Regions from separate parts of the Homo sapiens genome. Here region 2 is linked to region 1. Evidence: fine-mapped expression QTL. A gene starts in region 1. The other region holds a variant in brackets. All regions are shown on one strand. Distances are between the middles of the regions.

Region 1 (5,370 bases):
ACAGCTCTCAGGATACAGTCTAAATGACTGAACTTGGCCTATAAGCTGGAGTGAAAGTCAAGGTATTTTATATCTGGTAAGGTACAGGCCCTGATGCCAGTTTAGAAAGCATGTCAGCTGATTTATCTGACCAGTTTATGCCGGCTAAATAATGGCTTGCCTATAGAGCCCCATACTCTTCTGCAGTCTCATCTAGGGCCACTCTTCCTCTAAAGTCCCACTGATCTTGTTTTGGTTCTCAGAATCAATCACCAAAAATGCAGTTACCTTTGCCTGGAATACTCTTTTCCAGTGGCTGCACCATCATCCCACCTTATCTTTTCATTTATTTATTTATTTATTTTTTTTGTAACTCCATCCTGTTACTGCCTTAGTCCTCTGAAAACCTCCAGCTAGTTTTCATACGAATGCGTTTGAAGTCTTCTCCATTTTGCACTTGTGTAGAATTTTTTTAAAAATTCAAGAACAAAACTTTTTATTAACTGAAAGCCTATTATGTATTAAGTATCATGCTGAGTTTTGTGGATATAGGGGCTAGGACAAAGTATCAACAGAGTAAAAGTGTAAGCTCCACGAGGAAATAACTGGGTCTGTCTTGTTCATTAATGAATCCCCATTCCTTTTTCTTTTTGTTTAATTAATTACTTTTATTTTTATTTCAATAGTTTTTGGGGTACAAGTGGTTTTTGGTTATATAGATGAATTATAGTGGTGAAGTCTGATATTTTAGCCACCCAAGTAGTGATGAATCCCTATTTCTTGAGATGATGTCTGCACACGGTTATATGCTTACCATTTGTTGGATGACTGAGTGAATAAGATAGTTTAAAATGGAGATTTTTTCCTATAAGTCAAAAAGTATTTTCCTAGTTCATTTATTTTATAAATTCAGATATTTTGTACAAGGCTGTCACAATCTAACTCACTTTTTTTTTTTTTTTTTTTTAGACAGAGTCTCGTTCTGTTGCCCAGCCTGGAGTGCAGTAGCGTGATCTCGGCTCACTGCAACTTCCGCCTCCCGGGTTCAAGCAATTCTCATGCCTCAGCCTGCCGAGTAGCTTGAATTACAGGCGCGTGCCACCAGGCCCGACTAATTTTTGTATTTTTAGTAGAGACGGGGGTTTCTCCATGTTGGCCAGGCTCGTCTCGAACTCCTGACCTCAGGTGATCCACCCGCCTTAGCCTCCCACAGTGCTGGGATTACAAGCGTCAGTCACCGCGCCTGGCCCTAAATCACTTTTGTTGTTGTTGTTGTTGTTATACTGTTCTTTTTCATTGCTAAGTAATATTCCACTGTGCTACATATGGAATATGCTACAATTTGTTCATACAACCACCTGCTGAGGGGCATTTGGGTGTGTGTCAGTTTTTTAGGCTGTATAACCAATTATCACAAACATAGCAGCTTAAAACAACCTAAATCACTTTTAACCAAACCCTAGAGTTTTCTCCTCCTAAGGTAGACCCAATTTCCAAAATAAACCCATATTGTACCTTTTCAGGCCAAAGAAAATATTTATATGCTTTATTTGCTGGAGGCCATTATATTCCACCGTTGAAGGACTTTTGTTAAGTACCTGTTTGACCCTTAGTGCAGGGCTTACATCCCACAGTTAGCAATAGCAAGTTATGTGCTTTTTGAGCTCTAAACACTGAGAATTTCTTGAACCGAGTTCTATTCGGCCCTGACTTGCTGTGGGGGAGAAAAGATTCCTCGGGAGAAGTGTGGGTGGCGATGGCTTAGGAGGACCTTGAAATTCCGCATTTGTCTGTGAGCTGCTGCCAGGTGCCCATTGGCCCAGCTACTCTGGGTCGCAAACCTGCAGATGCCAGATACATGAAATTTGGGGACGTTCAGCTTCCTAAAACCACAGTTAGGCAGGTCCTAGGACCCGTGATTCTTGCCACAGTTTTTCTTAGTATTTGGGCTACAAGTGAGGCATTGGCCGCCATCTTGATATCAAATGCCAGGCAAGCCGCTACTGGCGTCGCTCGGTAACCACGGAGACACCCGTGCCCCTCCCGTTTCTCATCCTTAGAGGCTGTAAACTACAATTCCCATCAGCCGATTTCCTCTGCGTAATGGCAACTTATCTAAATCTGGCTTGTGGGCAACCGCAACGCTGCCGCAGTGAACTGTGGGAGTTGCGGTTCACGGCGTAGCCTCAGTTTTTTTCCTGGGGGAAGTTCCAGAACTACAAATCCCGTGAGCCAGTGGGCTTTCGCCTGCGCACGGAGAAGCCGATTCTCCTTGGCCCCTCAGCCTGCGCCTGAGAGGTAAGAGAGGGCGGGGGGAAGGAAGAGGAGGCGGGATCCGGGCGCTGCGTTGGCTGCGGCCTGGCACCAAAGGGGCGGCCCCGGCGGAGAGCGGACCCAGTGGCCTCGGCGATTATGGACCCGGCCGAGGCGGTGCTGCAAGAGAAGGCACTCAAGTTTATGGTGAGGAGACGGTGGAGGCCGGGGAACGGTGGAGGCGCTGGCGTTGGCGGCGTCGCTGGCCTGGGCCGCCCGCCCACTGCGGGACCGGGCAGCGGGACCCTGGGCCGAGGCTGGCGGCGGAGCGGCTGGAGGGATGGGATGGGAGCTCCAGAAAGGAGGCTGGGGGTTGCGGAGCGGACCCAGGGGTGGGGGCAGCGGCTCCGCCATCTTGTGGATGAGAGGCCAAGTGACAGCGGGAGCTTAATCGAGGAGGGGGCTCCAGGCGGCGCGCGGGGCCCTGGAGGGAAAGGGGCGTGGGGACTGTTACTGAAAAGCGGAGGAAGCTCTCTGGAGAAACGCCGTGAGGCCGCTGGCGGGGCCTTCCTGGTGTCAGGGTTACCGGTAAGGCCCGGGAGAGGAGGTGCATTCACGACTGGGGAAGGGAGCGCGGGATAGAGTGAAGACAGATACGGTGGGTAGAGGGGAACGGGCAGGGCTGGATGCAGATGGATTTAAGGGTGGAGGAGGGAACGCTAGGGCTGGTGAGAGGCTTATAGTTTTGTAGAATGAGGAGGGAGGATAGCCTTTGCCTTGAGGGTGGAATCCCAGCTTGGCCAAACTACTGTTGACAAACTCTGGAAGGGAAGAGGCCTCACTAAAGAAGATAAGGACTGGGAATGAGGACCTAGGGCTATAATGACAGTCCCTGGGAGGGGAAAAGGGTGTTGACTGTAAGCTAGAATTACAAATGTCAGGGAGGGGTACATAACGCTACTTTGAAAGGAGAAGCTAAATACTGTAATAAGGACAAGGTGATGAAAAGTAAGAGCAGATTGTCAGGGAAACATGGGTACAGGAGATTGGGGCAAAATGAGTATCTAATAGGGTAAGCAAAACAAAATTTAAAGGTAAATTGTGGGACGGTAAAATGTGGAGGCCAGGTGCTTTGTATCATTTTCTGGGAAAGGAAAGGCCGTGGAGATGAGAGTTGCAAAGACCCATAAGAAGTGATGAGATCAGTTGAGAAATTTAGGAGATAAAAAGGGTGGAGGTTGGTAGAGGGAAGTAAGTCAGGGATAAGTCAGGATTTGTGGTTACCCGTCAGTTTTAGGTTGAAGCACAGTGTGAGCAAAGATTGGATTTTGTGGGTGTGCTTAAACCCCTTGGAACATATTTCTTTAACTTTGTATCACGCTTTTCTTTTTGCTGTGCTTATCTTTGGCAAACTCGTATAGTCTGATATTTGATGCTTTTAATCTGATGCTTTTTGTATTTCCTAGGTGTAAAACCAGACTTTGTGGTTACAACTAAAGAATGATGGAATGCATAGATTTTAAGCTTAACAGGTGGCCTTAGGGACATTGATATTATTTGCAGTCCAGTCTTGCTTTTTCAGAAGTTATTGTGACTTGTCACTCCAAATCTTACTCCTTTGCTTAAAAAAATAGCTATTTTGTATCTTTGCCTAAAATACCGTAACAAATCCAGATAAACATGGATACTAACAAAATTGAATTTTAGACTTTAAACTGCCCCATTTATAAGAATACTTTTTTGGAATCTAGTCAAATTCACTAAAACTTTATCTTGCATTAGTGTTTTCGAAAACACCTAATTAAAATTCAGGGGTATCATTAACAAAATTTCATTGAGCCTGAAGAAGGTTCTTGGATTTCTGCCCAACATTAAAATTCTAAATATGAAGAAGAGACCTTGAACTTTTACTGGACTTTAGAAGTAAGTGAAAGTTACTACACTTAAGTTAGAAAACTGTTACTGCTTATTTTTGTTTTCCTACTTAGAGGGTTGACTCCTTTTTTTCTTCTTTTGAGATGGAGTCTTGCTTTGTCGCCCAGGCTGGAGTGCAGTGGTGCAGCCTCCGCCTCCTGGGTTCAAGCGATTCTCCTGCCTCAGCCTCCCGAGTAGCTAGAACTACAGGTGTGGGCCACCACGCCCATCTAATTTTTTATTTTTAGTAGAGTCGGGGTTTCACTATGTTGGCCAGGATGGTCTCATCTCCTGACCTCGTGATCCGCCCACCTTGGCCTCCCAAAGTGCTGGGATTTCAGGTGTGAGCCACAGCGCCCAGCAGAGGGTTGACTCTTAATCCTAATCCTGACATTTGTGTCAGATTTATGGAATAATGTGATTTACAGATCATAAAGAGACATTATGAGATCATCCTTTTTACTCTCAGTTAGACTTCAGCCTAGTAACATTCTCAGCTACTTAATCTCTGCTTTGTACCAGTGAGTTATGTTTTGATAATGGCCTCCCTGGTTGAGTTAAAGTGGACTTGGAGATGACCATATAGTAGTTGCAGCTTTTAGAGCACCACACATTATTAAATCTTGAATCAGTTTTCATAGGGAGAAGCCAATTTTTTCTTTTAATTTTAGTTACTTTCATTATTGACCTTGCCTGCTGTTTTGGCTGCCATTTGAGAAAAGGTCAACTAGAAGAGGGTCACCAGAATGACACCTTAATAAAAGAAACAGAGAATGGAGAGTTTGAGATTGGGTATTCTCTTTCAGTGCAGTAACAGTCTTATGAATCTGAGTAAGTCACAACTTCCCTTTGGTGCCATTTACCCTGCTATAACATGTCTGTTTATTCAGAGTCAGTTTTAAGAAAGGAAGATAGGCCGGGTGCGGTGGCTCATGCCTGTAATCCAGGACTTTGGGAGGCCGAGGCAGGCGGATCACGAGGTCAGGAGATCGAGACCATCCTGGCTAACATGGTGAAACTCCGTCTCTCTAAAAATACAAAAAATTAGGCGGGTGTGGCAGCGTGCGCCTGTAGTCCCAGCTACTCGGGAGGCTGAGGCAGGAGAATGGCGTGAACCCGGGAGGTGGAGCTTGCAGTGAGCCAAGATCGCGCCACTGCACTCCAGCCTGGGCGACAGAGCAAGACTCCGTCTCAAAAAAACAAACAAACAAAAAAGGAAGATAT
Region 2 (5,370 bases), 260 kb after region 1:
CACAGCAACGATGGGGACTGCAAGACCCAGTAGTTGGCCCCTGAGCCTTATACCTCCACCACAGGGGGTGCCGTGAGACTTCAAGGCTTGGCCCTTCTTGACCACGGCAGCCTCCTGTCTTCTAGGAGCTATCAAGGGTCTCTAAGAACTGGGCATGGGGCACTCCTAGCCAGTGAGTCATGGTCATATTTCCTGAGTAAAGTCATTCTGAGTTACTTACTGCACAGGGACTGCCCTCTTGTTCCCCTCTGTATGCTGCCTGGCCCCAGACCCCACTGGCCTCCCTCGGGAGGGTGTGATGACATTCCTTTCTCTATCCCGGAGACCTACAACATAAAGCTTTCCACAAAAAGGGAGAATAGGGTGGGAGCACATGGCCCTAGCAGGGCAGGGCTGGCCTTTCCCTGCAACCTGTTTACACAAACTCAGAGGAAGACCAGGCTGGAGGGACCCTGTGCTACCGTAGCTTGCAGAAGTGGCTCAGAGGAAACTCCTGAAGATGTGTGGGCAAGGGAAAAGTTTTAAAAATGCAGAAACCGGCCAGGCGCAGTGGCTCACGTCTTAATCCCAGCACTTTGGGAGGACGAGACGGGCGGCTCACCTGAGGTCAATAGTTCAAGACCAGCCTGGCCAACATGGTGAAACCCTGTCTCTACTAAAAACACAAAAATTAGCCGGCCATGGTGGCGCATGCCTGTAATTCCAGCTACTCGGGAGGCTGAGGCAGGAGAATCGCTTCAACCTGGGAGGCGGAGGTTGCAGTGAGCCAAGATCATGCCACTGCACTCTAGCTTGGGCAACAGAGCAAGACTCCGTCTCAAAACAAAACAAAACAAAAAAACAAAAACAAAAAACAAAACAGAAACCTTGGAAGTAGAACACAGGATGTTAAGGCATTGTGGGTAAAAAGCCAGAATCAGGGTCATAATTTTGCCAAGGGTGTGTGTTGGGGTAGGGGTCACCACAGGCAACAACTGAGCTTCCAGCAGCCTGTACCCTTTCCACAGTCCCCTCTCCAAACCCACAGGTGACCCTCCATACCCCAAAGGGTAAGGGATAGGTCATCAATGGGAACTCTTCCTGAAAAAAAGAAACCTTTGTTCTTTGGGACACAGAGCCATGAGGCTGGTCTTGTCGTTTCAGCAGCACATACAACCCTGAGCTTGGGTCTGCTGTTCCCTTCTCCTGGAGCCTGCTAGGACTACTCAGCCAGTGAGGAACCAGATCTGTGAACAATCAAGCTTTATTTTTACAAAAATGAAAATTGTAGCATGTCTCAACAGCCAGCCTGAGGTAGGGCTGGCTCAGAACTCACTCAGAACTGCTGGGTTCCCTTTGCTCTTTCTTGGTTTCAAAGCAAAACCAGGCCACAGTGCCCCAGGAATGAACCCCCAGCCCCGAGAGGTTGGTCAAGGGTGAGGTCTGGCTGGTGCCAGGAGGCTATTGGCAGCCTCACCTTTCCTTCCAGGAAGGGGCAGAAAGGAACCATCTGGGAAGGTGGGAGCACCTCACCTCACTCTGTAGGCTGTCATGGCTCTAATAAGGGGTATAGGATGGGCCTCTCCAGGCCAGATCCTTGCTCTGGCCAAACAGGGACGCAAGGCCCGGGTTCAGCCGCACTCTAAAGCAGCAGGTCCTGCCTCTCCAACAGGTTCCTGGGAGGGACTGCATCTCTGGTAAGCTCCAAAGTCCCAGGAGTCAGAAGCCTCTAGTGCAAGGTGCCTGAGCACTGGGGTCACAGGCCCAGGAGCACAGTGGGGCAGTGAGGAGGAGCTATCACTGCACCCTCCAGGCAAGAGAAGTCCCTGAGTAGCTGGTTTCCCTGGCCCAGAGGCAGGGGTGGCCCTGACGGTCATGGGTTTTGAAAATCCAGGACGTGGAGGTTGTAAGACAGGGCAGCATAGAGATGCTTGGTGGTGAGACGCAGGCAGTACACAGGGCTGCTGAGGGGAGTCGACGTCAGCGGGAAGGCCTGGAAGGGAGGGCACAGGAAGTGGTAAGAGCTTTCCAAGTGGGACATGGGTGTGCCCTAACCCAGGATCCCCAGGCCCAGGGGAAGAGGGACGTGTGCCATTGTAGGCTTCTTCCAACCCTTTCTAGGCACGTCCTTGGCTACCTCACCCTCTCCCAAATGCAGCCCATAATCATGAGTCCTGGCATGCTGGAGAAGAGGTGGGCAGGACACTTACGTGCAGGCAGGCCCTTTGACGCCGGTCCCACAGCCGTACAACACCGTAGTAGGAGGAACCTGTGGCCAGCAGGTGGTTGCCATCTGTCTGCAGGCAGTACAGGGTGCTGTCGTGGGGCTCCTCCCACTCCATGACACATTTCCTGTCCAGGAAGAGGAGAAGCAGAGGGAGGTTTAGGGTACCCTCCACCTCTACCCCAGCTTTCTTGGGCCTAGAGTGGCTGAGGGGAGCGTTAAGGAGCCATTCCGGGATGGAAGAGAAAGAAGCCTAAATCATCAGATTCATCAAAAACCGAACTTCATGGGAGAAAGCATCTTCTGTAGAGGGCTCTCGCCATGGCCCAGACGACACAGCAGATTATGCCTGCACTTCTGTTTTCACATGGCCAGCTACTTGTCACTGGACTCAAGAAAGGTTGAAGTAACACAGGCCTCAAGAAAGGCTGGGAGAGAATATTGAGTGACAGTACCCTGACGGCTCCAGAGGCTCTGGGAAACGCCTGCCTTTGCCAAGGCCTGTTGGCTATAGCCAAGCCACTGGGACCAGGGCTGCCCAAATGTAGGAAGTCTAGTGACCTTGCAGGCCTCTTCCTTCCCAGCCCTGACATGGAGTCTCTGTGCCCTCTCCCATGGGCCAACCCAGGACTGGAGGAAGGACCAGGATTGGTGCAGGGCCCCCACCACCTGTCCTCCCTGCCCAGCACACTCACCGGACGCTGGTGCGGAGGTCCCAGTAGCGAACATAGGTGTCATAGCCACAGGACAGCAGTGTGAAAGGGGACTCATACATGACATCCAGCACCCCAGCCCCTGGGGGAAAGTCACTGCCCAAGTGTGTCATCAGCTGCCCACTGGGAAGGGAAGGACGGAGTGAGAGGCTGCTCCACGTGGGTCATACACATTCGTTCCACCTTCAGAAGGCATCAGACCTTGGGGAAATGTTCTCTTTCCTCAGCTAGAATGAGACTCAAGGAAGGGGGCTCAGGGAGGAGATGCCCAATTCCTACCCACCTCACCCCTGCCATGAGGCCTCTGCAACCAGTCCCAGGCCCCACCCCTCCCCCAGCATCCCAGCCCTCAGCAGCCCCTCCATCACACCTGCGTGCCGGCTGCCACCCACC[C/T]AGCCACTCCTCCTCAGGACAATGAATGGGGGGGCTTGCTGAAGGGGTCGGCCCCCCTCACATTCACATGCACATGCACACACACACACACACTTGGTTACTTTATACATCTTGATCCTGCAGGTCATGCAGTTCTGAGCTGCCTGAGTCCAATGCCTTAATTCCTGCCTGTAATCTGGGGCTCAAACCTCATTGGGGATAAAGACCACACAAAGGGAGAAGGGGAGTCCCAGGAGATGTTAAAACAAGTAAACACCTTTGTGTCTGGGGAGAAAAATCGCTGAGAAAGCAGCTTAGCGAGCTGTCCCTGGTGTTCCTGGTCTAGCTGGCCCCCAGCCCGGGGCTAGCACGCCTCCGTGATCACAGCCCCCAGCCTGTGGGGCTCCAGCCTGCTCCCCCCACCCTCACCCCACCCGGGGGCCGAGAGCAGATTACTGAGAACAATTTCTTTGTGACTGTGTAATTCCCTCCGTGACCGCGGCAGTGGGCAGACCCTTTGCCCTGATGCCAGACCCCTAGCAACTATGTAGGGGGGCCTCCTGTCCCTAGCAACTACCCCTCAACATCAAGTGCACCCGCTAATCCCTGCAGCCAGGGGATGGGTGCAAGTATGGAGTTTCCACAGAATGACTGGGGGAAATGAAGGAAAAGGGGCGCCCTCCAGGCCTGATGCCTTAGCTTCCTTTACCCGTGAGACGCTGGGCTTTCCCCATGCCATGACAGGAGAAACAAGGCCGTGGACACTTCACAGGGATGTCCAGGTAAGAGGCCCTGGCATGGAGTGAGGGGACTTCATGGCTCACCAGCCCTTTTGGCCCAAGTAGCATGTCAGCAAAGGGCTTGAGGCAGACAAGGCAGCCAGCCACATGTCTGAATGCAGATGTCAGCTCTCGTCCTTCCACCTCACTGAGACCCTGACCCACAACCTCCCTTCTCCCCAACAGAGCTGCCATCTTCCCGAAGGCCGAAGGAATCAAAGGAGGAGACTGGGGGTTCCTTTCTGCCCCTTCCACCTTTCCCCTTTGAGCCCTGGGCAGTGGGCCCTGGCCAGGAGCACTGCTGCTGCCAGGGGGGAATTAATCCCCAAGGCAGCACCCCTGCTACCAGCCTCCTCAGGGAAGTTCTGGTCTTCCTCTCAGTAGCCCAGAGCTGGGCCTGCGGGGAGAAGATGGCAAGCCTCTGTCTGTTGGGGGGCTCCTGAGAGGGATCAGGCAGAAGGCCTTCTCCCCAGATCAGCATCCCTTAGAGACTGCTAACCTTGGCTCCCAGAGAAGCCCTGCCTTCCCAGATGGGCCACCAGCCAAGATTCAGCCACCCTGGGCAGGCCAGAGCCCTGTAGGGGAGTCATTCTCTCTCTTTCACAGGTATACTGGGTGCATGCTGGGTAGGGGCTGTTTGGCTCCACAGTTCTCCTCCCTCTTCCAGATTTGGGGGCCCTGCCCCCTCCATTAGTGAGGCCTTAAGGAATGATTGAGGAGCTCTCCCCTTTAATCTATAGAAGTAATTTCATGTTTGTTTGAAATAGAAGATGAAAGGCAGTGGGGGTTGGGAGGACTGAAGCCCAGCATGGCTCTACCTGCCCACCCTGGTCCCTGGGTTCAGAGGGAAGGAGAGCTGGGCACTCATGGGGCTGCACAGGGACAGCAGTATAAAAGGCCCACCCAGACTGGGCTGCCAAGCTGGGCCCCTACCCCAGCATTCATGCCACCACTGGAAAATGTCATGGCCGTAAGTATCTGCAGTCAGAAATACAGGACAGCCCAAGGGGTCCCTGCCCTCGGGGGGAGAGCCAAGGGCCCAGTGAGCACCAGGCCCTGGAGGCCAGCACAAGTCCTGAGAGCCCCTGCTCTGCCCGCACAGCCTGGCAGGGGCTGAGAAGTTTCTTTCTGCTGTGCTGTTCTCTGGTTCTCTAAAATGGCCACACACACTTTAAATGGGCCAATGAAAAGATACAATTTCTTTTGCCCCTGGGCCCAGGACCCTCAAGGCTCTGTTGTGTGGTGCCCGTGAGGTTAAGTTCAGAGCATAAACTGACACGCCAGGCTCTGGGAAAAGGCCCAT

The links.
Region 2: its variant is fine-mapped to the expression of BTRC in sun-exposed skin (GTEx, PIP 0.93).

What each region holds. Positions count from the first base shown.
Region 1 is chr10:101,351,790-101,357,159 of GRCh38, forward strand. It overlaps BTRC (beta-transducin repeat containing E3 ubiquitin protein ligase), which reads left to right and starts at 2,376. Exons shown (of 15, transcript NM_033637.4): 1 at 2,376-2,439. The coding sequence starts at 2,392. RefSeq lists an enhancer at 1-151 and a silencer at 2,420-2,599.
Region 2 is chr10:101,609,439-101,614,808 of GRCh38, forward strand. It overlaps FBXW4 (F-box and WD repeat domain containing 4), which reads right to left. Exons shown (of 9, transcript NM_022039.4): 7 at 2,899-3,039; 8 at 2,190-2,331; 9 at 1,228-1,972. The coding sequence ends at 1,853. DPCD (deleted in primary ciliary dyskinesia homolog (mouse)) reads left to right here. Exons shown (of 6, transcript NM_015448.3): 6 at 1-224. The coding sequence ends at 33. Among named protein-coding and RNA genes, the nearest start is that of MIR3158-2, 11 kb to the left of the region's middle. RefSeq lists enhancers at 1,938-2,438, 3,596-4,129, 4,130-4,663. The variant C/T (reference allele first, on the strand shown) is at 3,310.